Linked DNA regions of Homo sapiens. The protein of the gene in region 1 interacts with the protein of each later gene in a pairwise test. Each region holds a gene or a part of one and is shown on either strand. Other genes may lie near its edges.

Region 1 (3,500 bases):
ATGTTGGCCAGGATGGCCTCAAACTCCTGACTTCGTGATCTACCCACCTCGGCCTCCCAAAGTGCTGGGATTACAGGCAGGAGCCACGGCGCCCGGTCCTGAATTCTTTTCAAATGTTTTTTTAAATCATGAAGCATGCTTCTGTGAAGATTCTCCTATGTTTCCTGGTGCTTACACACAAATGTCCTTGCTGTATACATATGCAAGAGTGGGAAGTGGTGAACATAGGAATTCATGTTTTCGATTTTTTTTTTCATTTTTTTTACCTCCATTCTCTCAGAATGTGATCATGTTTTCAATTTCATTGGATAATGCCAAACTTTTCCAAAGTGGCTATGTGAATTTACATCCCTATTAGCTGCCCTGCATCCTCACCCACATGTTATATTGTCAGATCTTTCCATTTTTTCCATTCTGAAGGTGTAACATCATGTCACAGTGGTTTTGATTTCCACTTTACTGATGAATAATGAGGCTGAGCAGTTTTCTTATTTATTGGCCCTTTGGTTTTCCTAATCTATGCAGAAATTTGTGCCTACTTTTCTTTTTGGGTAATTCTGCGTCTTTTTATTCTATTCAGAGGAATTTATTAAGTGTATTGACAAATTGAAACAGTGAGAATTTAACAGTTTTTTTAATAAAAAAATTTAAATTCACTGTCTTCAGTTTAATACAATTTTTTTGAGACAGAGTTTCGTTCTTGTTGCCCAGGCTGGAGTGCAATGGCACGATCTCAGCTCACCGCAACCTCTGCCTCCCAGGTTCAAGCGATTCTCCTGCCTCAGCCTCCCAAGTAGCTGGGATTACAGGCATGTGCCACCATGCCCAGATAATTTTTTGTATTTTTAGTAGAGATGGGGTTTCACCATGTTGGCCAGCTTGGTTTCAAACTCCTGACCTCAGGTGGTCCATCTGCCTCGGCCTCCCAAAGTGCTGAGATTACAGGCATGAGCCACCACCCCCGGCCCAGTTTAATACAATTTTTAACATATCTCATTTTAGAAAGTCACTCTATGTGGGTTTTTTTTTGAGACAGGGTCTCACTCTATCACCCAGGCTGGAGTGCAGTGGTGTGATCATGGCTTACTGCAACCTCAACCTCCTGGGCTCAAGGAATCCTCCTGTCTCAGCCTCCATGTGGCTGGGATTACAGGAATGCACCATCATGTCTGGCTAATTTTTAATTTTATTTTGTAGTGTGGGGTCTCAGTATCTTGCCTAAGCTGGCTATGTGTTTTTTAAACTGATAGAAGTTTTAGTTCTTTCTTTTTTTAATGTATAAGCCTCATCTTCATGGAATAAAAGCCTATAGGCTAAAGAAATAGTTACTCATTTACACTGAAAAGTATTACTTCTATTGTCTGAAGTTTCACCCGGTGTGGTGGCTCATGTCTGTAATCCCAGCACTTCGGGAGGGCAAGGTGGGAGGATCACTTGAGGCCAGGAGTTTGAGACCAGCTTGCGCAACATGGTGAAACCCCGTCTCTACAAAAATTAGCTGGGCATGGTGGTGTACACCTGTGGTTATAGCTACTCTCGGGAAGCTGTTGTGGGAGGATTGCTTGAGTCCAGGAGGTTGAGACTGGTGAGCCGTGATTATGCCACTGCACTCCAGCCTGGGCAACAGAGTGAGAGCCTGTCTAAAAAAAAAAAAAAAAAGTTTCCTGAATGGGCGGCTTCTGACCTGATGCCAGGGTAACAAGATAGACAAGATGTCTTTAATAATAAAAACACAGGCCAGGCACAGTGGCTCATGCCGGTAATCCCAGCATGTTGGGAGGCTGAGGCAGGAGGATTGCTTGAGCCCAGGAGTTTGAGACCAGCTTGGGCAACACAGCAAGACTCTGTCTCTACACTGCACTCCAGCCTGAAAAAAAGAAAACACACACACACACTAAACTAACTGCATAAGAGACTACTCGCTCAATCATCCATGGCACGAAAGCATCATATGACTGCTTGTGAGACAGAATCAAGTTGCTGTGAAGGCCAAACTTGCCTGCACCTTGCATCCATACTGTGCAGAAGCTGGACTTCAGCCAAGAGTCACTTGCTTTTAGAATAATGGTTTTGGTTGTTAAGTATAAAGTAGGGAAGTATGTTTTAAGCATGACGGAACAAATAAAAGGAAACAAAATGATTTCACCGAAATAAATGTTTAATTATAAAAACCCAGTAATCTCTCTAGGCCTACTATGGCTCACAAGAAAAGGAAAAATGTTTTAAAAATTAAAAACACAAAAAGCCCCTCCCTGGTGTTTTGTAGCAATTGTGTGAGTTGTTTAACACGCTTCATAGCACCGAGTCGCCTCTACATTCTTGTAAAACATTAGTGTTAACACCTTCAGAGATTGTACTGAATTAAAAAGATCAGGCATACACTTACCCCATGGACAAGATAAACTGTCTTGTTGTGTACAGGCTGTAGTGTGGTCATATTTGAGGTTGTCTGGAAAAAAAACAGCGAGTTGAAGTGACAACAAAATACTCCCTTCAAGAGTGGAAAATCCTGGCCGGGCATGGTGGCTCACGTCTGTAATCCCAGCACTTTGGGAGGCCAAGGTGAGTGGATCACTTGAGGTCAGAAGTTTGAGACCAGCCTGGCCAACATATAGTGAAACCCCGTCTCTACTAAAAAATACAAAAATTAGCTGGACATGGTGGTGCATGCCTGTAGTCCCCACTACTAGGGAAGCTGAGGCAGGAGAATCGCTTGAACCCCGGAGACAAGAAGTTGCAGTGAGCCGAGATCACACTACTGCACTCCAGCCTGGGGGACAGAGTGAAACTCCGTCTCTCAAAAAAAAAAAAAAAAAAAAAAAAAAAAGAGTGGAAAATCCTTTCGTTGCTATTACAACATGTAATTTACTGAGTTACAAACAGCAGGGTCAGGGCTGGGCAGGTGCACACACTTATCCATCCTGAGGAACTGCCAGGACAAGACAAAGGCATATCTACTCCTCGCTTGCTCTGATGCTAGTGGCAGTGATCCAGGTTGTGGCAGGTGGCTTCTGTTTCTATGCACATCAGTAATCTAAAACTCAGTCCCATCGTCCTCTGTGGCCTGTGTTAGAGGTGAGGGGACCAGGTGCTTCCATGAAAAAACTTCTCATCTCCAACCAGCCATGCTCCCAGAGAATTTCACAGTCTCTGTGGTGTCAAATCAAAGGGCGCTCAAAGGCAGTTTAAGCTCTCCATCAGGCGAGTACATAGCTGGACACAAGGGAGCCCAGGACTGGTTTGGCAGTGGCAGCAAAATGCCCTCCTGTGTTTTCTTGTCTCCTACAGCTGCAGTCAGTAAGCAGAAGTTCTATGCAAGATTTCCAAGACATGATGATGTGTCTTCTTGTATAGTCACTGGAAAATTAAATTCCTCTAAGGCTGGCATGTACCTTGTTCCTCTGAGGATATCTGATTTTGCAGGCCAGTAAGAGGTAGACTGTAATACCTGGTGCCCTATCCACATAAAGCTACTTTAGAAATAAGGAGGAGCTTTCAAG
Region 2 (2,600 bases), on another chromosome or scaffold:
AGCAGCCCCTCCAGCAAAGATGCAGGAGCCCCTGGCCTAGAGCTCCCCCTGCCCACAGCCCCATCTGCCCTCTGTCCCTCTGGGTGTTTTCTTTTCTTTTCTTTTTTTTTTTTTTAAGAGACAGGGTCTTAATCTGTCATACAGGCTGTAGTGCTGTGGCGCAATATTGCAATACAGCTCACTGCTACAGCCCCAGGCTTAAGTGATCTTCTTGCCTCAGTCTCCCGAGTAGCTGGAACCACAATCTCATACCACCACGCCCCACGCCTGGTAAATTTTTAAATGTTTTTGTAAAGACAGGGTACTGCTGTGTTGCCCAGGCTGGTCTCTAATTCCTAGTCTCAAGCGATCCTTCCGCTTTGGCCTCCCAAAGCACTGGGATTACAGGTGTGAGCCACTGTGCCCAGCCCTGCTCTAGGTTTTCATTTGGATTTGCTGCCTAGTGGAAGGCACAGGATGGGGCAGTGCCTTCTGCCAGTGAGGGAGGCTCCAGGTAGATGTCATTGCTGAACTGGAGCTCCCCTGGAAGCAATGTGGCCCAGCCCTTCCTGGGCAGCCCCTTCTGCCACCAGGAGCCTTAGAAAAAAAGTAAAATAGCTCTTTCAGAGAAGCATTTGGTTTTGAAAGTGTCTGAGCCATGCTTGGCTGGCAGTTTTCAATGTAAACCACACATGATTTAGGGTAGAGGAGAGACAGGGCTGGGCAAAAAGAATTCACTAACCAGGCTGGGGTGCAGTAGGAGGATGGTTTCTGTGTGCTGCTCTAGTGGCCCTTGACTGGACCCACCTGGAGCTGAATGCTCTCCCCGTGAAGGGCCTGACAGAGCCAGCTCATCTTTGTGCACATTCAGACACACACACACACCCCCCCCACCGGTCTCCTGCTTGGCTCTAGGCTGAGCCTGGGCCACAGTGACAGAGCAGGGAGTTCAGGGCAAAGGGAAAAGGAGCCGATCCCCAAGCTTTGTAACAGAGAAACAGGCACAAGCAGGGATCCATTTGAGGGATGGGGAATGGGGGCCCAGCAGCACCAGCTGACCCCCCTCCCGCCCACAGCACAGTGAGTGTGAAGGACATCCAGGCGCACCTGGCTCAGGGCCATGTGGCCATCGTGCTGGTGAACTCGGGGGTGCTGCACTGTGACCTGTGCTCCAGCCCTGTCAAGTACTGCTGCTTCACCCCCAGTGGCCACCACTGCTTCTGCCGCACTCCTGACTACCAGGGCCACTTCATCGTGCTGCGTGGCTACAACCGGGCCACTGGCTGCATCTTCTACAACAACCCAGCCTATGCCGACCGTGAGTGCTGGGTGGGGTGGGTGAGGCAGAGTGGTCCACATTCACTGTTCTGTATGCCCAGTGCCCACAGTTCCCACCCATTCAATCTAGTGTGGCCAGGGCCTCCCTCCCTACCTTTTCCCCAAAGCCCCTGCTCCTCCTGGGCTCTTGTCACTGTGGCCACCCCTCAGGCCATGCAGGCAAACCTGCCGCAAACTGTGCCAGCCTCCTCTACACCCTGGCCACCCCTCCCTCTCACACCACAGGCCCCACGCCACTGCCCAGGTCCCTGCCTTACCCTTTCATGCTGCCCAGGCTGCACCCCTCCCCCAACCACCAGGATGGCCGGCACATTCCTCAGAAAGAAAAGCCCGGCCAGACCCAGCCCCTGCTCTAGACCCATCCTGGCCTGCCTACTGCCCTCCGGGCACAGGGAAGGGCTGCCCTGACTCTCATAGACTGGATTCACATAGACAGCCCCTGGACGCCCTGACCACATAGACTTACCCCGTCTATGTGGCCTGGAGCACGTTTCTGCCCCTCTCTGGGCCTTTCTCCAACTGCTTTACTGGGGAGGAGTCAGAGAAACCTCATGAAGACCAGGATGGGCAAGGAGGGCTTCCTGGGGGTGGAGGACTTGAGTTGAGAGGAATGGCCATGTGGATGGGAAACAGACCTCACTCAGCTCCCCTGGGCACTGTGTCGGTGGTGTAGGTGCTCTCTCACAACCCACTGACCCCGTTCTGCCTTCCCCACCCCCAGCAGGAATGTGCAGCACCAGCATCAGTAACTTTGAGGAGGCCAGAACCAGCTATGGCACAGATGAGGACATCCTCTTTGTCTACTTGGACAGCTGACAGCAGGAGCCTGGTGCGCCTAGGCCCTCGGACCCCATCCCCACCCCAGCCGGGCCCGCTCAGGATGCCCTGGCCCAGGCTTGGGGCTGCTGGGGTTGGAATGTGGAACTGCAGCCTCAGCCCATCTGGCAGAGTCCCAGGAACTCGGAGACTGGCACAGCTGCTTTGTCTGCCAGTGCCGTGTGTTGTCATGTCACTCACCCCAAGCACCTGCTGGCTGCTGGAAGCATACCCCAAGACCCCAAGCCTTGACTCCAGCTGCGCCCACAGGAAGTCCAGTCCCGACAGTGCCCTTGTTGCCTTTGAGCCAGATCCATGGCAATGGTCTCCCCACAGACCGCAGGACTGAGCCTGGAGAGAGAAGTTGCTTGACGGATGCCACTTGTCAGGACAGTATGTGAGTGTCTGGAGACAGCATAGCTGACCCCAATCCCCCAGGGCTGAGGACCCCTCCAGGCCCCTCTCTC
Region 3 (3,500 bases), on another chromosome or scaffold:
CGATGCTTGTACCAAGTCATGGAGCGACATGAGAAGGCTGGAAAATAGGGAGGGAGGGGCTGAAGGAAGCATCAGACACGGGTTCTGTGGGGCATTCCCGTGGGCCCTGCCCGCCCTGTGCCCCAGGGGCCAGGCATGGAGAGCTGGATGGTGGGACGGAGCACGGGCCAAAGGCCAGCCATATTGGGTGTCAAAGGCCTGTTGCATCTCCCAACCCACAAATTCTCTTCCACCCAGCTGCTCCCTGGTTGCCTGTGAGTGGCCCAGAAATGGTTTTCTCAGCCAGCCACCTGGTCTTCCCTCCTGTCTGTTTCCTCCTGCCCAAAGGGCAGGCCCTGATTCCACTTTCCAGAAGCTTGACTGTAGAGATCCTGTTTGGCTTTGATGCTCTGTCCTGGTGGAAAGCAGCCGTGGGACAAGTGAGGTCCTAGATTCTCGCTGTGTTCCCTCTGCCCACTGCCACGAGCATTTATAAAAATAGAAAAAGCCAGCTGGGCACAGCAGCTCACACCTGTAATCCCAGCACTTTGGGAGGCCAAGGCGGGCGGATCACCTGAGGTCGGGAGTTCGAGACTAGCCTGACCAACATGGAGAAACCCCGTCTCTACTAAAAATACAAAATTAGCCAGGCGTGGTGGCACATGCCTGTAATCCCAGCTACTCAGGAGGCTGAGCCAGGAGAATCTCTTGAACCCAGGAGGCAGAGGTTGCAGTGAGCTGAGATAGCTAGCGCCATTGCACTCCAGCCTGGGCAACAAGAGCAAACTCTGTCTTTAAAAAAAAAAAAAAAAAAAGCCTAGAAAGAGCCGGGCACGGTGGCTCACGCCTGTAATCCCAGCACTTTGGGAGGCCGAGGCGGATGGATCACAACATCAGGAGATCGAAACCATCCTGGCTAACACAGTGAAACCCCGTCTCTACTAAAAATACAAAAAATTAGCCGGGCGCGGTGGCGGGCGCCTGTAGTCCCAGCTACTCGGGAGGCTGATGCAGGAGAATGGTGTGAACCCGGGAGGCAGAGCTTGCAGTGAGCCAAGATCGCGCCACTGCACTCCAGCCTGGGCGACAGAGTGAGACTCTGTCTCAAAAAAAGAAAAAAAGAAAGAAAAAGCCATTAATTATTAAGCACTGGCACTCCCTCTTTCGGCCCACATTCCTCCCCTACCTTGGACCAGGCGTGGCAGGCCCTGTGCGTTCCTCTTTCCAGGCTGAGAGGCAGCTGCTGAGTCACAGATTTGAAGTCCTTGGTACCCGTGCTGTCCCCGCCTGCCTAGCTGACCTTGAGTCCTCAGCCTCAGGAGAGCTCTGACCTGGCAACGGGAGGGAGGTCCTGCCTCCACCCTGGTTACCCCAAAGGTGACCTGACCCTGATTCTGTGGACCCAGAGTGGCTGACAGTCGTGCCCTGGAGCTGAGAACAGGACCTCACAGCCCTGCCAGGTGGTACTTGTGTCCACAGCCTGGAGCCCACACCCCTACCTTTGTCCTCCCTGAAAATGTCCCCTCTCCCTTTGCTGAGTCTCTGCTCTGGAATCTGTGGTGCCCGAGCCAGTGAGGGACAGTGGGATTTCTAAGTTTCTTTTCAAAGACAGGCCCTGGGTTCCCCAGACATTCCTCCTCAGGCCTCTGGGGCATTGCTTCATGTAAAACCACTAAAACCTCCTGAAGGAGACCCCAGAAAACCCTGGGGTCCAGGCAGGGGAGGTGCCAACCCAGACTTAATGTTGTTTTTTTTTTTTCTTTTGACCTGCACAGTTCAAACCCATAGCCCAGACTTAGTACCTTCCCTCAGCTTGGTCCGGTGTGTCCCATTCATCCAGCTGTGACAGGTTGTTACTCCACTTTCACTTCCTGTCTAGCCAGCTCCCCCATTCTCCCGTTCCCAGGCCTCTCTCCTCTGAGCCTGGAGCCATCACCCACCCTCTGGTAGCTGGTGTCTTCTCCCTAGTACTTGGCTCCACTCAGTTCCCTGCTCTGCAACTTCTAGACTATTCCCTGATCCCTCCTGGCAGCTTTGACCAGCTTAGCTTGCGCTGTGATCCAGTTTCCCTAAAATGATCTGAGACCTGCCTCTCTGCCCCCAAACAGCTTCTATTGTGTTTCTCTTTCTACCTGTCCCTGAATCACTAGGTGGCCCAAGTCGATTCACTGCCTTCAAAGGGCAACCTTTGATGTCTCTGGTTTATAGGGTGGTATACCACCCTGGCCTGCCAGCATTAGAAATCTACACACAGCCCAGACACTAACCTGGAAGTGGGGGGTATGATGTTGCACTGCACTTGGCCTTTCTTCACTCACCTCTGATGCAGTGGCTTTGCACTCTAGTTAAGCTGCAGGGGCTCCATGAAGGCCACTTACTTGGAGCATGTCCTCCGACACCCACGGCAGGAGGTAGAATCAGTAGCAATGGCCTCTTTGCAGACCATGTAACAGTTTCCAAGGGGGAAAACATTTAGGAGAGTAGCCCTCTGATCTCTTTCATGTATATCTGAACTGCTGGATACTGTTCAGGATGAGCTAAATTTGAGTCCCACTATGGAAAACAGGAAGATAGCATGGCTGTCTCATCACAAACTGAAGGTGATCTTGCCCGGCTCCTGAGTCCTGAGTTACTGCCATGCGCACAATATAGTACAGGGCTGTAGTTCAATCTTTTTTTTTTTTCAAGACAGAGTCTTGGTCCATCGCCCAGGCTGGAGTTCAGTGGCACAATCTTGGCTCACTGCAACCTCCGCCTCCCAGGTTCAGGCAATTCTCCTGCCTCAGCCTTCTGAGTAGCTGAGATTACAGGTAAGCACCAGCACGCCCAGCTAATTAATTTTTTTGTAGAGACAGGGGTCTCACTATGTTGCCCAGTGCAATGATCTTTACATCAAACTTTACAATTTGTAGATACCTCCAGACTTTTGCCCAACTGACAGGTCATAAATTCATACAGCATATATCCGCATTCCCTTACTAGGTTTATGTTATGTAACTAGTTTTTTCTTGGCATCCTCATCAGAAGGTTAATTGCTCAAGGCTAAAAGTTCTTACCTATGATTTACATGATTTGGTTTCTTTGTTGTTGTTGTTGTTTTCAATGGCTGAGGAAGATGTTTGGGAAAGCTGCCTTTGTTTTTTCAGGCTAAGTTACTGCAGCCTTGCTCTAGGATAGCAGCTTTGCACTCCTTCTCCAGATGACACAGGGCCCTCCTTTGGCTAAAACCCAGCCCTGGAGGCTCCACTTTGGCTGTTTCAAAACCTCACCTCTGTGCACAGGATCAGACTCCGGATTTGTTCCTGTGGGGCAGTTCAGCCTTTATGTCCAGGCCCAGTGGCTGGTCTGGCCCCTCTGCCTCTCACAAGGCAATGTCAGTTCTGCCCCCAGCTTGGCTGAAGGCCCAAGGCTCTGCCCTCAGCTGCCCACCAAGAGTCACTGCTTGCCTGGGCTCATCCCAAAGGAAAACTTCCACCCCAGGTCTAGGTTTCTTTTCAAAGACATCCCTTGGGCTCCCCAGC
Region 4 (3,500 bases), on another chromosome or scaffold:
CCCTCTTGGGGTTAGAGCCACTGCTGCGGAAGGATGGGTGGCCCCCAAGGTCTTTTTGTCTTCTGCATGTCACCTGAGTCTCGAGGCTGTCTTCACTTTTGGGTGATAACTGTGGCTCTCCTCAGGGACCTGTAACTCCATGTCCACACTATACTAGAGTATAGTGTGTTTACAGCAGGGGCCCAGGATAAGGCAGAGCGCACAGATGAAGGGTCAGATCCCATGGCTTCCCCAGCTCCAGCACCTGTGGCGTCCTGGTTGTCCCCTCTGCCTGGAATCTCTTCCTCCATTTCACCATACTCTCACTTCCTTAAGTGCTTTTCTCACAGAGGTCCTCCCTGACCACTGTCTCGTTCTCTGTTGCATTGCTGAGCACTTTATATAATCTCATAGCCCTTATAACTCCCTCACTTATTCATTTATTTGCGTCTTGTCCATCTCCCCCGCTAGAACATTCTCTCCCTGAAGGCAGAGATGTTCATCTATCTTATTGTGGCTGTGTCCCCACACAGTAGGTGCTCAGTAAGGGCCCAAGTGTCCCAGCTGCCTCGTCCTGAGTATAGGATTTAGCCTCTCTATGCCAAAGTTTCTCCATACGTCAGAAGGGGGAAATAAAATGAGCTGACCTCACAGAATCATTGAGGGATAAATCCTAGCTACTCAGGAGGCTGAGGTGGGAGGATTGCTTGAGCCCAGGAGGTGGAGACTGCAGTGAGTCATAATCATACCACTGCACCCCAGCCTGGGCTACAGAGCCAGACCCTGCCTCAAAAAAAAAAAAAAAAAAAGCCGGCGCCATGGCTCACGCCTCTAATCCCAGCACTTTGGGAGGCCAAGGCAGGTGGATCACCAGGTCGAGAGTTTAAGACCATCCTGGCCAACATGGTGAAACTTGATCTCTACTAAAAATACAAAAATTAGCTGGGCGTAGTGGCCCACACCTGTAGTCCCAGCTACTTGGGAGACTGAGACAGGAGAATCGCTTGAACCCGGAAGGCGGAGGTTGCAGTGAGCCGAGATCACGCCACTGCACTCCAGCCTAGTGACAGAGCGAGACTCTGTCTCAAAAAAAAAAAAAAAAAAATAAGGTGATGCACATGAAGTCCCCAGCGAATGTTTGCCAGTCTTGTCACCTCACCTCATCTTCCCCATAAAACCTGGAAGTAATAATGACCATTATACGTAGTTGACAGACAAGGGAAACAGAGGCTCGGGAAGGCAAAACGTGAGGTCACTCGCCCAGGGTCCCCTGGCTCTTTCAGCTCATAAATGGGAACAGGGCTGGGCGCAGTAGCTCACACCCGGAATCCCAGCACTTTGGGAGGCCGAGGCAAGTGGATCACCTGAGGTCAGGAGTTGGAGACCAGCCTGGGTGACATGGTGAAACCCCGTCTTTACTACAAATACAAAAAAAATAGCCGGGCGTGGTGGCAGGCGCCTGTAATCCCAGCTACTTAGGAGCCTGAGGCAGGAGAATCACTTGAACCCGGGAGGCAGAGGTTGCAGTGAGCCAAGGTCATGCCATTGCACTCCAGCCTGGGCAACAAGAGCAAAACTCCATCTCAAAAAATAAATAAATAAATAAGAGAGGGACTATTCAAACTCACGTTCCTGGTTCCAAGCCTACATGTTCCAGTAAGACCTGGATGCCCCCTATTGCTATGAACACCCGTCCTGCAGGACATAAGAATCAAGGCCTCTCCCACCTGTGAGACACTTGTCCCAAAGCAGTGGGGGTGGCAGAAAATTGTGAGCTCCTCCAGCTCAGCAGCACTAATCCGCTCCTCATCCTCTCCACACAGCATGGCTCTCTCAACCGATACCACAACAGCCACCCGCTTCGGGAGCGGGCTCGGAAGCTGTCACAGGGCATCCTCATCATCCGGTAAGGCCCAGCATCACCTGAGGACCCCACCGTCCTGCCCCATTCCTTCAGTCTCAAGGAGAGTTCAGTGCCCTCATTGGCCCAGTGCTGCAGGGTCTTCATTCCATAAAGCAGAAAGTCACCGTATCAGTCAGTTATTGCCGTGTGACAAAACAATAAGCATTTATTATTGCTCACATGTCTGCAGCTCAGCAAAATATCTCTGCTGGGCTTGGAAGAGCTTGGCTGGGCTGGGCTAGGCTGGCCTGATCTGGGCTGGGCTCCCATGTGTTTCAGAGTTGGCTGGCTGGGGACTGGCTGGTTTAGCAGGGACTTGACCTGTACAGCTGGGCTCTGCTCCGTGTTGTATCTCAACCTGTAGCAGGCCAGCCTGGACTTGATCACATAGGACTCTCAAAAAAGACAGTGATCGTAGTTGGGCACAGTGGGTCACGCCTGTAAACCCAGCACTTTGGGAGGGTGAGGCAGGTGGATCACTTGAGACCAAGAGTTCGAGAGCAGCCTGGCCAACACAGTGAAACCCTGTCTCTACTGAAAATAGAAAAAATTAGGCTGGGTGCGGTGGCTCACACCTGTAATCCCAGCTCCTCGGGAGGCTGAGGCAGGAGAATCACTTGAACTAGGGAGCTGGAGGTTGCAGTGAGCCAAGACCATGCCACTGTACTGCAGCCTGGCAACAGAGCGAGACTCCATCTCAAAAAAAAAAAAAAAATTCGCCGGAATTGGTGGCGCACACCTATAATCCCAGCTACTTGGGAGGCTGAGGCATAAGAATTGCTTGAACCCAGGAGGCAGAGGTTGCAGTGAGCCAGGATCGCACCACTGCACTCTAGCATGGGGAACAGAGCAAGACTCTGTCTCAAAAAAAAAAAGTCGCAGCAGCACCCAAAGGCGGCTGTCCCTGGACCTGGTCAGTCTGCTTTCTAGCAGGCAGGAAGTTCCTGCTCAGTTACAATGGTTGTGATTCTTTTTCTTCCATATATCCATTTCCTGTGTAATGTGAGTGCAGCAACTCCCGTTAACAGGGCAGTCTAATACCCCACCCCTCAAATCACAACCGCGGCCAGAGTCGCAGGTGTGGAGACCCAGGGAGTGTCCAAGTGGACAAGTGCAAGTAAGATGCTGTCTGTCTTTGCAGATTCGAAATGCCATATAACATCTGGTGCGATGGCTGCAAGAACCACATCGGCATGGGTGAGCCTCTGCCCACCCTCCATTCAGTCCTGCAAACATCAGACCCCCTAACTGCTGGATGCCGCCGGGGTGGGGGTGGGAGGGTCCTGATCAGGAATGAGGGAGGAGACGGGCACCCGAGTGACTGGCTGGCCATGGAAGCCCCTTTGCAGAGGGATTAGGAAGCCAGGCTCTGGCTTCCAATCCCGTCTCTAACTCCTCCTAGTTGGGGAACCCTCAGCAAGTGACAGTGAGCCTCTTTGTACCTCATTTTACCCATCTGCAAAATTCAGATGGCAATGAAATTACCACCCCCGCCTGACCCCCTTCCAGGTGTTCGTTACAATGCAGAAAAGAAGAAGGTGGGCAATTACTACACAACCCCGATCTACAGGTAAGGGCGGCTTGGTGGCATCTTGGGAACAGGTGGGGTGGCCACAGG
Region 5 (3,500 bases), on another chromosome or scaffold:
GGTGTCGAGAGAGGCCTTCGTGAAACCATCTGTGGGGGCGAGATCAAACAAAAGGATCAGGATGAGACACAGGAGTGACAAGAGGGAGACGTGGAGAAGAGGTGACCCAGAGGGAAAGAGGCTGGGGACTCTGTACAGTAGGGAGCAGAGAGAGACCAGGTGCTGTTTGAAATCAAACCAGTGCTCCAGGCAGCTTTCAGGAAAGGCGAGGGAGCATTCCCCTTGATTCACCCTCTTTGTTCCTTCTCTCCAGGAGAAGTCTCTCTCCAGCCTGGGAAACGAATCATGGAAATGTGTCGCTGCACCAAAATGGGGCAGTGTGGGAGTGACTCACTGCAGGAAGCAGCCGCCTGCCGGCAGCTGCGGAAGAGATAGACCAGAGCTGCGAGGACAGAGGATGCACTGGGGAGGGAAGGGAAGGCTTCAGGCACTGGAGCCAACCAGGTGCAGCCGGCTGAGCAGGGCCTGGGGTGCTCATGCCTGCCCTGAGGTCTCAGTGGCCTAGAGGTTCCTCCCTGGGTATTAAAGGAAAGTTACAGCCCAGGGCGTCACGTTACCTAGGCTGGCATGGAGCACAAGGGGGCTTTGCTCAGTGTGCCTAGCAGAGGCTGCAGTGTTCCTAGGGAGTCCAGTGTACATGCTTGGAAATCAGCGAGGCTGGCAGCCGCCAGAGAGCGGCGTCTATACAACCAGATCCTGGGCCTGCCCCAAAAATCCAGGCTGGGAAATAATCTTTACTGTGGAAAAGAAGAAACAGGAGAAATTACTCTTTTAGCAGAATGGTCAGGGTGGCAGCCCCTGGAGGTACAGCTGCATACAGCGTGGCATGTATGAAATAGGTCAAACACTTACACAGGGCCAGGCAAGCTGTGGCTGCAGCCTCAAAGCAGGAGGCCAGAGACCTCTCTCCACCACAGACAAGCAAAATGAGTGTCTGCAATCACTCAGCGGCCAAAGGTGGGACTGTGTCACATTGCTTCAAGGTGGCTGCTCTAATTGCTGTCACCAGAAGGCTCATACGCATGTTCCTTTAAGATAAAAGCCCGTCAGGCCTTGGCTTTGGATTCCTTTGTGAGCAATTCTCTGTGCTTTCTAGAATTTGGGAAACTGAGACATAGGTAGCAGGAAGGATGTACTTACTGGAGACTGAGTCCCCCACTGGGACTGAGGGGGAAGTTTGGCTGTGCTCTGAGAGGGCTGAAAGCAGCAGTTTCTGGTGGCCTGGAGATTCTGCCTGAGTATTTGCCACACAATTCTACAGGGCTAAACAAGAGGCCACCACACACACCACTGCCACGTGTGGGAAATGTAATGGGGATGGGAAGAGGAATGGAGTATGCACCACAGCAGCCATATCGCAAAGGAAACATTTCAGAAGTGAAGGGGATTTAGGAAATACACATTTGTCCTCTGACTGCAATCTGATAGGGGGCTTCTTTAAAGATTTGTAAAAATCACCACACATTGCATATTAGACATGAGTGGTCATGGTTTCAATAATACATATTCGTTCGTTCATTCATTCATTCATTCATTCAACAGCTTTACTGAACATCTAGTACTGTGCTGGGCCCCTCCTGGGCACTGGGGACACAGTAGTGGGCAGAACAGACACACACCCCTGCCCTCAGGGAGCTTACATTCTAGTCGAGGGGGACACACACAAAAGAACAAAATAATTAAGATCTGAAGCGTGCCAGATGATGGTAAGTGCTGTGGAGAACATGAAAACTGAGAGGAGAGATGGGGCGCTGTGGGTGGGAGATTAATGTAAGGTATGGTGATGAGAAAGACCTCACTGAAAAGGAGACATTCTAAACCTATAGGGGACTGGGGAGTGGGAGGAACCAACACAAGAGACTGAGGAGGAGAAGCCAGGGCAGTGGGAGGACAACCGGAGGAAGGACGTCCTGGAGCCAAAATGAAAGAGGTGTTCCAGTGGGAGGGGGGATCCCCAGGGCAGGTCATGCTGAGATGACCCCTGGGAGCTACAGCCCATGGGGAGCCTGGTGGGAAGGGTCGGGAGATGAGGAGTTGGAAGTAGCAAATGCACACACTCCTTTTGAAGAGATGGAGTGGCAAGTGGAAGGGGATTTGGGATTAAGAATTTTCTTGATTTATTTATTTATTTAAATTTTTTTTTTCTTTGAAACAGAGTCTCTCTCTGCTGCCCAGGCTGGAGTGCAGTGATATAATCATGGTCCACCACAGCCTTGAACTCCCAGGCTCAAGCGATCCTCCTGCCTCAGCCTCCCAAGCAGCTGGGACTATAGGCGCATGCCACCACGACCAGCTAATTTTTAAAAATTTTTTGTAGAGATGGGGCTCGCTATGTTGCCCAGGCTGGTCTCAAACTCCTAGCCACAAGTGATCCTCCTCCCTCAGCCTCTCAAAGGACTGGGATTACAGGCATCAGCCACAACAAAACCCACCTGGCCTCTGGGTTTGGTTTTGTTTGTTTGTGTTTTGGTAAGTTGGGAGAAATTGCAGCGTGTGTGTTTGCTGACAGGAATGATCCAGCAGAGAGGGAAAGGAGGTTGACGTGGAAGAGAGAGAGAGGAGAATTTCTGCTAGAAGCAGTGACAGTTCCTTCCAGCCAGCTGCAGGAAAGGCCGACTGTTTGAGCACACTTGCAGGAGGCAGGTGGATGCGGTGGGGGAGGGGGGTCTGGGAGCTTCACTTCTGGTGGCTTTCATTGTTCCAGAGAACCTGGAATCAAGGTCACGGGCTAAGAGTGATGCACGGAGGGGCTGAAGGTTTGAGGAGCACGTGGGGTATGCAGAGGTCACCTAGCAGATTCCTGGGCAGCATCAAGGGTTCCGTCAAGGTCAGTGGTCATTCTCTTGGTTTGGTGGTCAGTTCAGGTTTACCAAGACTGGTGCTCTTGCACCTTGCTGGAGTCACCAATACTACTGTGGTTTTCTAACAAGCTTTTGCTCTTTGAGCTAGACCCTGGTTCTGAGGCAAGATTAGATTTCTATCTAACCCTTGTGGTCAATTCTTGAGACAAACGAAGCCCAATCTCAATTTTTCATTTCCTCTTTAGGAAGAGAATTTCCCCTTCCCCCCGCTGACTTCTCTCATTGGGGTGAGCATGCTTTACTGAAGGCAGGGAGTGTCTGTCCACCCACTGAGTGAAGGGTGAGAGCCTGGTGAGGATGGTTAGGATTAGGAGGTCACAGAGAAGCGCTTAGGAGAGCAGCTCCCGAAGTGGGGTGGCCAATAGCGTCCCCTTTGGAATTCTGGGGAACGCCGTGATTGAAATCACTATAGATAATTTGAGTTTACAAACTCATTTTATAAAAACTTAAAATAGGCCGGGTGCAGTGGCTCACACCTGTAATCCCAGCACTTTGGGAGGCCGAGGCGGGTGGATCACCTGAGGTCAAGAGTTTGAGACCAGCCTGTCCATCATGGTGAAACCCCATCTCTACTAAAAATACAAAAGTTAGCTGGGTGTGGTGGCATGCACCTGTAATCCCAGCTACTAGGGAGGCTGA
Region 6 (3,500 bases), on another chromosome or scaffold:
GGTTCAAGCAATTCTGCCTCAGCGTCACGAGTAGCTTGGATTACAGGCACGTTCCACCATGCCCAGCTAATGTTTGTATTTTTAGTAGAGACGGGGTTTCACCATCTTGGTCAAGCTGGTCTCGAACTCCTGACCTCAGGTGATCCACCCGCCTCAGCCTCCCAAAGTACTGGGATTACAGGCGTGAGCCACCACACCCAGCCAAAATTTTTTTTTAAAAAAGAATTTTCATTCTTTTTCCTTTCCTGGTCCTGAATAAATATTCAATCAAGTCTTTAGACTGTTGGGAAGAATGAATTGGAGAAACAGGGAGACCAGATGAATGAAACCAGACCCTTCGTCCACACATCTTGATTCCCTCTATGGTGGTGTCTTCCTCCTTCCCCAAATCATTGACTGTCCTGTCTTCCAGGTGGAGGCCACAAGCAGGAAAGAAAAGGCCAAGCAGAGGCCCCTGGCCCTGAACACTGTGGAGATGCTGCGTGTGGCCAGCTCTTCTCTGGGTATGTAGGGACATTTCTCTCAAGTCACCAGAAGGCTTCCTGAGGCAGGTTCAGCCTGGAGCAGCGAGTGCCCAGGGTTGCAGGATGGTGCCCAAGGCTTCAAGGGGATCTGAGCCTCAGGAGGATTTCACTTATCCTTAGGTTGTAAAGGTGGTAAAGTTGGTCACCACCTGAGGGGACCTCCTGATGTTAGAGTCCCTGAGCAGCTATCCCTGGTGAGGGGAGAGGCCCCAGCCAGATGTCACCTTCAGGGAACCAGTGTGAACGTCGCCCCTCAGCCTCATCTCCTCAGTCTTTTCTCCTTAGTAACGAGGAGGGGGTTGGGCTGGAAAGCTGGTGGTCTCTGGCAGCTGTCAGCCCCTAGGCATTGGTGCCCCCCACCCCCGCAGGGAACTATGGGCAGTGTCCTCTCAGTGGACACTGAGTGGTGGCTCCAGCGTCCTCAGAGGGCAGCAATGCTGGGAGTGGTTGCTAGCTAAGCGCCTGCCTCTGCTGGTCAGGGAGTAGCAGGACGAGCCCCCCTGAGTGGCCCCAAAGTGCTGTGAGGACAGAAACACCCAAGGGCTCAAAATGGGGCTGCGTGCTAACTCTGTCGTCAGCCAACCCCGAGGTATGGTTATGGCTCCATGGACAATGCATGGGGAGTGGTGCTCTGAAGGCCATGTGTCATCCCCATGGCCATGAGCCCCATGAGGATGCACCGTGGGGTAGAGTGAGTGGCGTTTCCCATCAGGCCCATCCTGGGTGTAGGATTCAGCCTTACGGGTGCGGGATTCAGCCTCATACAAGACTGTGTGGCATAGGTGCCCACCCGGCCAGCAGCTTTGCACTCCAGCTGTGCCTGCTCAGAGCCACCGTCACCCTCCAGGAGGGGCCGGCCACAATGGGGGAGCCTGAGTGCATAGGCCAGGGCAGGCAGCTGGCCATCCCCACGTACCTGGCCCTCTGAGAACCTCCTGTCTCTCGCAGGCATGGGGCCGCAGCACGCCATGCAGACGGCTGAGCGGCTCTACACGCAAGGCTACATCAGCTACCCACGGACAGAGACCACCCACTACCCTGAGAACTTTGACCTGAAGGGCTCTCTGCGGCAGCAGGCCAACCACCCCTACTGGGCCGACACGGTGAGTGGAGCCGGGCCGGCCTCAGCATGTGTGTGTGTCACTGAGGCCTTGGGACCAGGTCTGGTACGTCAGCCAAACCCAGGCAGGCAGCCGAGCCCAGCCACAGACTCTGCTCTGTCTTCTCTCCCTCAGGTGAAGCGGTTGTTAGCAGAAGGTATCAACCGCCCGCGGAAAGGCCATGACGCCGGCGACCATCCCCCCATCACCCCCATGAAGTCTGCCACAGAGGCCGAATTAGGTACCGCTCTCATCCCATACCCGGTGTGCTTCCAGGGAGGGAAGGGCGAGCTGCGACAGTGAAGGTTGCAGGCCCTGTTGGCAATGTGGGGGCTCCTTCAGCCTCTGCCTGCCCTGGCTGTGGGGATGGGGGGCCACCTGGAAGATGAGCTCCATTGCTATGGGACCAGGACAGGAGTGAAGAGGTAGCAGCAGGTGCTGTTGCAGGGAGGCAAGGGGGCAGACGCCACAGGGGACATGAATGAAACCAGGGTAGAGAGTGGCGGTGTGGGGGAGGGGGCAGCACACCTCCTACCTCCCAGCTGGCCTAAGGTGGTACCAGTGGTCCGAGTGCCAGGAGAAGGCAAATGAGGAAGGGAGAGCAGTGCAGGTAGAGACAGGAGCCACCTGTGGACAGTCTGAGTTTGAAGCAATGGTGTCATGTCACGAGACAATGGAAAGACAGGCCAATGCCTGAAGAGCAGTCCCGCCAGAAGCAGGGACAGGAGGTTGTGCAGGATGGTGGGAGCCGCAGCCAGAAAGAAACCACTGAGGCATGGAGGCTTGTGTTCCCTTCCTCCGCATTTGCTTTTTTTTTTTCTTTTTTTGAGACAGAGTCTTGTTCTGTCACCCAGGCTGGAGTGCAGTGGCCCGATCTCGGCTCACTGCAACCTCTGCCTCCCAGGTTCAAGCAGTTCACCCTGCCTCAGCCCCCCGAGTAGCTGGGATTACAGGCTCCCACCACCACACCCAGCTAATTTCTTTGTATTTTTAGTAGAGACGGGGTTTCACCATGTTGGCCAGGCTGGTCTCAAACTCCTGACCTCAAGTGATCCATCCACCTTAGCCTCCCAGAGTGCTAGGATTACAGGCATGAGCCACCACGCCCGGCCTTCCTGCACATTTTCTTTCCTCCTTCCCCAGGATTTGCAGTGTGTCCTGCACAGCGGCTCTGTAAGCAGGAGCTTGCTGCTCGAGCGAGAGTACTGGGGGCTCCTCACGGCCAGAGCCCCCAGCTGGCTCCCAACTGACTAGCCCTGGCCTGTTGCAGGGGGTGACGCGTGGCGGCTCTATGAGTACATCACCAGACACTTCATCGCCACGGTCAGCCATGACTGCAAGTACCTGCAGAGCACCATCTCCTTCAGAATTGGGCCCGAGCTCTTCACCTGCTCCGGGAAGACCGTCCTCTCACCAGGTCACACCACGGGCCCAGCCTTCCTCCTCTGTGCCTTCATGGGCAGACAAACATTCTACATCGTGTCTGGGGATGGGAGGCCCAGGGTCTGAGGCCCCGGCCACCCAGGCTGGGGACCCTGAGTGGCGGCGCATATCTCTCCAGGCTTCACGGAGGTCATGCCCTGGCAGAGCGTGCCCCTGGAGGAGAGCCTGCCCACTTGCCAGCGGGGTGATGCCTTCCCTGTGGGCGAGGTGAAGATGCTGGAGAAGCAGACGAACCCACCCGACTACCTGACGGAGGCCGAGCTCATCACGCTCATGGAGAAGCATGGCATCGGTGGGTGCGCCTGCCCAGGCCCCAGAGCCGGCTCCGTCTCCAGTACTCAGGCTTCGAGTCTACTCACAAAGCTGCCCCGCCAGCCCTGTGTGCCCAGCCCAGCACCCCTCCATGGGCTGGTATCTGGAAACTGGTGACCCA
Region 7 (3,500 bases), on another chromosome or scaffold:
AAGATGCAGTCCCAGCAGCTCCAGCAAAAGCAAAAATCCCGGGGCTGACTCTTTTTGGACTGACTTGAGTTATGTTTCTGTTCTTGTGGTCGGGGTATGGGCTATTCTGCTTAGTCAGGCCTAAGTTATGTGCCCAACCCTGGATCCTAAGGGAGGGTGAGATCTTGGAACCTCATGGACCAGAGTAAGTAGTAGAGAGGTGGTTCCTCAGTGGAAAATCAGGGTTCTCTTACCAAAATAAAGGGACAAATTCTGGGCAGATATAAAGTTTATTCACTGTAGACCCATATAATCTCTTCTTGGGGATTACCTCAGTAGCTTCTTAACTAATCTTCCAACCTGAATTTAGTCCCAATTCCAGATAGCCTCACCCTGCTACTAGTTTAATTTTTCAGAAACAAAGCTACTATAATATTTTACTCAGGGATGTTCAGTGATTGGCTGGATTTGGTGGCTCATGCCTGTCATCCCAGCTCACCCTGCTACTAGTTTAATTTTTCAGAAACAAAGCTACTATAATATTTTACTCAGGGATGTTCAGTGATTGGCTGGATTTGGTGGCTCATGCCTGTCATCCCAGCACTTTGGGAGGCTGAGGTGGGTGGGTCACCTGAGGTCAGGAGCTCAAGACCAGCCTGGTCAACATGGCAAAATGCTGTCTCTACTAAAAATACAAAAAATTAGCCAGATGTGGTTGTGCACCCCTGTAATCCCAGCTACTCAGGAGGCTAGGCAGGAGAATTGCTTGAACCTGGTAGGCGGAGGTTGCAGTGAGCCCAGGTGATGCCACTGCACTCCACCCTGGGCAACAGATCGAGACTGTCTCAAAAAACAGAACAAAACAAAAGCAGGGGCCGGACGCGGTGGCTCACGCCTGTAATCCCAGCACTTTGGGAGGCCGAGGCAGGCGGATCACAAGGTCAGGAGATCGAGACCATCCTGGCCAACATGGTGAAACCCCGTCTCTACTAAAAATACAAAAAAATTAGCCGGGCGTGGTGGCGGGCGCCTGTAGTCCCAGCTACTTGGGAGGCTGAGGCAGGAGAATGGCGTGAGCCCGGGAGGCAGAACTTGTAGTGAGCCGAGATCGCGCCGCTGCACTCCAGGCTGGGCGACAGAGCGAGACTCCGTCTCAAAAACAACAAACAAAACAAAACAAAAAAAACAAAAGCAATGTTCAGTGGTTTTCCCATTGAAAACAGAATATTTTCCATGTCAAAACTCCTCACCCTGGTATTGAATCTTTTTTTTTTTTTTTTGAGACGGAGTCTCGCTCTGTTGCCCAGGCCAGAAAGCAGTAGCACAATCTCGGCTCACTGCAAGCTCCGCCTCCCGGGTTCACGCCATTCTCCTGACCTCGTGATCCGCCCGCCTCGGCCTCCCAAAGTGCTGGGATTACAGGCGTGAGCCACCGCGCCCGGCCTGAATCTTTCTGTTAGTACTTAATGAAGTTTCCAATTACAAAACCATGGCACACTCACCCACTCTCACATCTTTCTTGCCATTCTCATTCTTGCTTTTCTACACTCACTGCAATACCTCCCTCTTTGCCTGGAGAGCTCTTAGTCGTCCCTTAAATGACGCTCCTTTAGAAGGCACCCCTCTCTGTTAGAGCACATCTGACATCTCCCTTCATAGCATGGTTATGTAAGTGTCCATTTCCCCCATTACGTTCTGAATTCTCTGACAGATGGGACTCTTCCTCTTTAACCGCTATAACGCTTCTTTAAGCACCAGTGCCTAGCCCAGTGCCTGACATATAGTTGGTGTTCAGTGAATATTTGTTTGAGGAATGAAGACATTAACGTTGTGGTCATCCCTCTTACAGATGGGCAGATGCTAGTGGAACTGTTGTCATTGGAAGTGCCACTTTCTTCGCATTTCTCCTATTCATTTTCACTTTTTCACGTTTTTATATTTCCTGTTTTCTTTCTTTCCCGTCCCTGTTTGATTATTCTAGGAGTTAACAGTTTACATAGAGCTAGTAGCAAAGCAGGATGATCACATGATTTTAAAGGAAACTAGCAATTGCTAGTTCGATTTTTAGTACAAAAATTACAGAAACATACCCTTGAAGCTTTTGGGGAAGCTGCTGTTGTCAGAACCCAGGAGGGGACTGCAAGGACTCTAAGCCTGAAGCTTTTCCTCTCCCCACAGCTGTTTTTGTTTTTTGAAGGGTTCTCACATTGTTGCCCAGGCTAGACTTGAACTTTTGAAGTCAGGCAATCCTCCTGCCTCAGCCTCCTGAGGAGCTGGGACTACAGGCATGTGCCACTGTGCCCAGCATAGGTCAGGCAGTCCTCCTGCTTCAGCCTCCTGAGGAGCTGGGACTACAGGCATGTGCCACTGTGCCCAGCATAGGTCAGGCAGTCCTCCTGCTTCAGCCTCCTGAGGAGCTGGGACTACAGGCATGTACCGCTGTGCCCAGCGTGCCTTTTACCTTTAAATCATCTACCTGAAACTGAAAAGACTGAAACACTTTGTCTTTCCTCCCGTGCCATTGCTATTAAAGTGGTGTTGTGTGCCTGCTTTACCTTGTTTGTAAAGCATTCTGCTACCTAGACAGTATAACATGAGCCTGGTGAAGTAATAAGATTGTCTTTCTTATATGTCTCATGAAATCAGCCTTATTGTGCCGCAGTAACACCTTGACAGTTTCTTCCATTCCGTCAAGCAGATTTAAGTCTTTACCATATAAAAGTCATATCCAGTATTTGAGGAAGTCCTTCCTAGCTTTCCTACTTCAGTGAGAGGACCAACAGCATCAACAGGGCCTTGCAATCCATGCTTACCTGCAGACCTGACCTTGGTTTAAACGCAGTGGAGATACTGTTTGGATGTGGAACACTGTAACCAAACTTCATTATGCTGCAGACTGTCCAATCCTTTACAATTTTTGGCAGAATTTTCTTTTTAAGCAGAATGGGTAAGAAGGCTTTATTCTAGGTACCCTTCCTGATTTTGTTGGATTTATTAGATTTATGCAATGGAAGTTCACAGGGGGAAAATGGCAGAGAAAAGAGAATATTATTCTCTGCTCTATGATAATGCTTCCCCTAGATTGTCAGTTACACCCTCCTCTGTGAAGCAATTGTTGTCTCCATTTTACAGTGAGGGAATTGAAGCTTCAAGAGTTTAAATGGCTTGGTCAAGAATGTGGATCTAGGCCAGGTGAGGTGGCTCACGCCTGTAATCCCAGCACTTTGGGAGGCTGAGGCAGGCAGATCACTTGAAGTCAAGAGTTCGAGACCAGCCTGGCCAACATGGTGAAACCCCATTTCTACTAAAAATACAAAAATTAGCTGGGCATGGTGTCAGGCACCTGTAATCTCAGCTACTTGGGAGGCTGAGGCAGGAGAATCATTTGAACCCGGGAGGCGGAGGTTGCAGTGAGCTGAGATCGCACCACTGCCCTCCAGCCTGGGCGACAGAGCAAAACTCAGTCTCAAAAAAAAAAAAAAAAATAGAATGTGCATCTAGTTTGTGAGCAGCTAAGATTC

The links.
Region 2: the proteins of ZNF250 (region 1) and GUCD1 interact in binary tests that used the Homo sapiens proteins (3 or more experiments, as listed by UniProt).
Region 3: the proteins of ZNF250 (region 1) and CDR2L interact in binary tests that used the Homo sapiens proteins (3 or more experiments, as listed by UniProt).
Region 4: the proteins of ZNF250 (region 1) and YJU2B interact in binary tests that used the Homo sapiens proteins (3 or more experiments, as listed by UniProt).
Region 5: the proteins of ZNF250 (region 1) and GRAP2 interact in binary tests that used the Homo sapiens proteins (3 or more experiments, as listed by UniProt).
Region 6: the proteins of ZNF250 (region 1) and TOP3B interact in binary tests that used the Homo sapiens proteins (3 or more experiments, as listed by UniProt).
Region 7: the proteins of ZNF250 (region 1) and RUBCN interact in binary tests that used the Homo sapiens proteins (3 or more experiments, as listed by UniProt).

The regions. Positions count from the first base shown.
Region 1 is NC_000008.11:144,884,454-144,887,953, forward strand, and holds part of ZNF250 (zinc finger protein 250), read right to left. Parts: intron 2,450-3,500; coding exon 2,387-2,449; intron 1-2,386. UniProt on the Homo sapiens protein: May be involved in transcriptional regulation.
Region 2 is NC_000022.11:24,542,539-24,545,138, reverse strand, and holds part of GUCD1 (protein GUCD1), read left to right. Parts: intron 1-1,055; coding exon 1,056-1,297; intron 1,298-2,038; coding exon of another isoform or gene 2,039-2,041; coding exon 2,042-2,133; 3' UTR 2,134-2,600.
Region 3 is NC_000017.11:74,990,632-74,994,131, forward strand, and holds part of CDR2L (cerebellar degeneration-related protein 2-like), read left to right. Parts: intron 1-3,500.
Region 4 is NC_000019.10:13,754,395-13,757,894, forward strand, and holds part of YJU2B (probable splicing factor YJU2B), read left to right. Parts: intron 1-1,802; coding exon 1,803-1,885; intron 1,886-3,023; coding exon 3,024-3,079; intron 3,080-3,391; coding exon 3,392-3,452; intron 3,453-3,500. UniProt on the Homo sapiens protein: May be involved in mRNA splicing.
Region 5 is NC_000022.11:39,956,584-39,960,083, reverse strand, and holds part of GRAP2 (GRB2-related adapter protein 2), read right to left. Parts: intron 30-3,500; coding exon 1-29. UniProt on the Homo sapiens protein: Interacts with SLP-76 to regulate NF-AT activation. Binds to tyrosine-phosphorylated shc.
Region 6 is NC_000022.11:21,962,288-21,965,787, reverse strand, and holds part of TOP3B (DNA topoisomerase 3-beta-1), read left to right. Parts: intron 1-412; coding exon 413-503; intron 504-1,472; coding exon 1,473-1,627; intron 1,628-1,759; coding exon 1,760-1,865; intron 1,866-2,894; coding exon 2,895-3,041; intron 3,042-3,185; coding exon 3,186-3,359; intron 3,360-3,500. UniProt on the Homo sapiens protein: Releases the supercoiling and torsional tension of DNA introduced during the DNA replication and transcription by transiently cleaving and rejoining one strand of the DNA duplex.
Region 7 is NC_000003.12:197,726,905-197,730,404, reverse strand, and holds part of RUBCN (run domain Beclin-1-interacting and cysteine-rich domain-containing protein), read left to right. Parts: intron 1-3,500.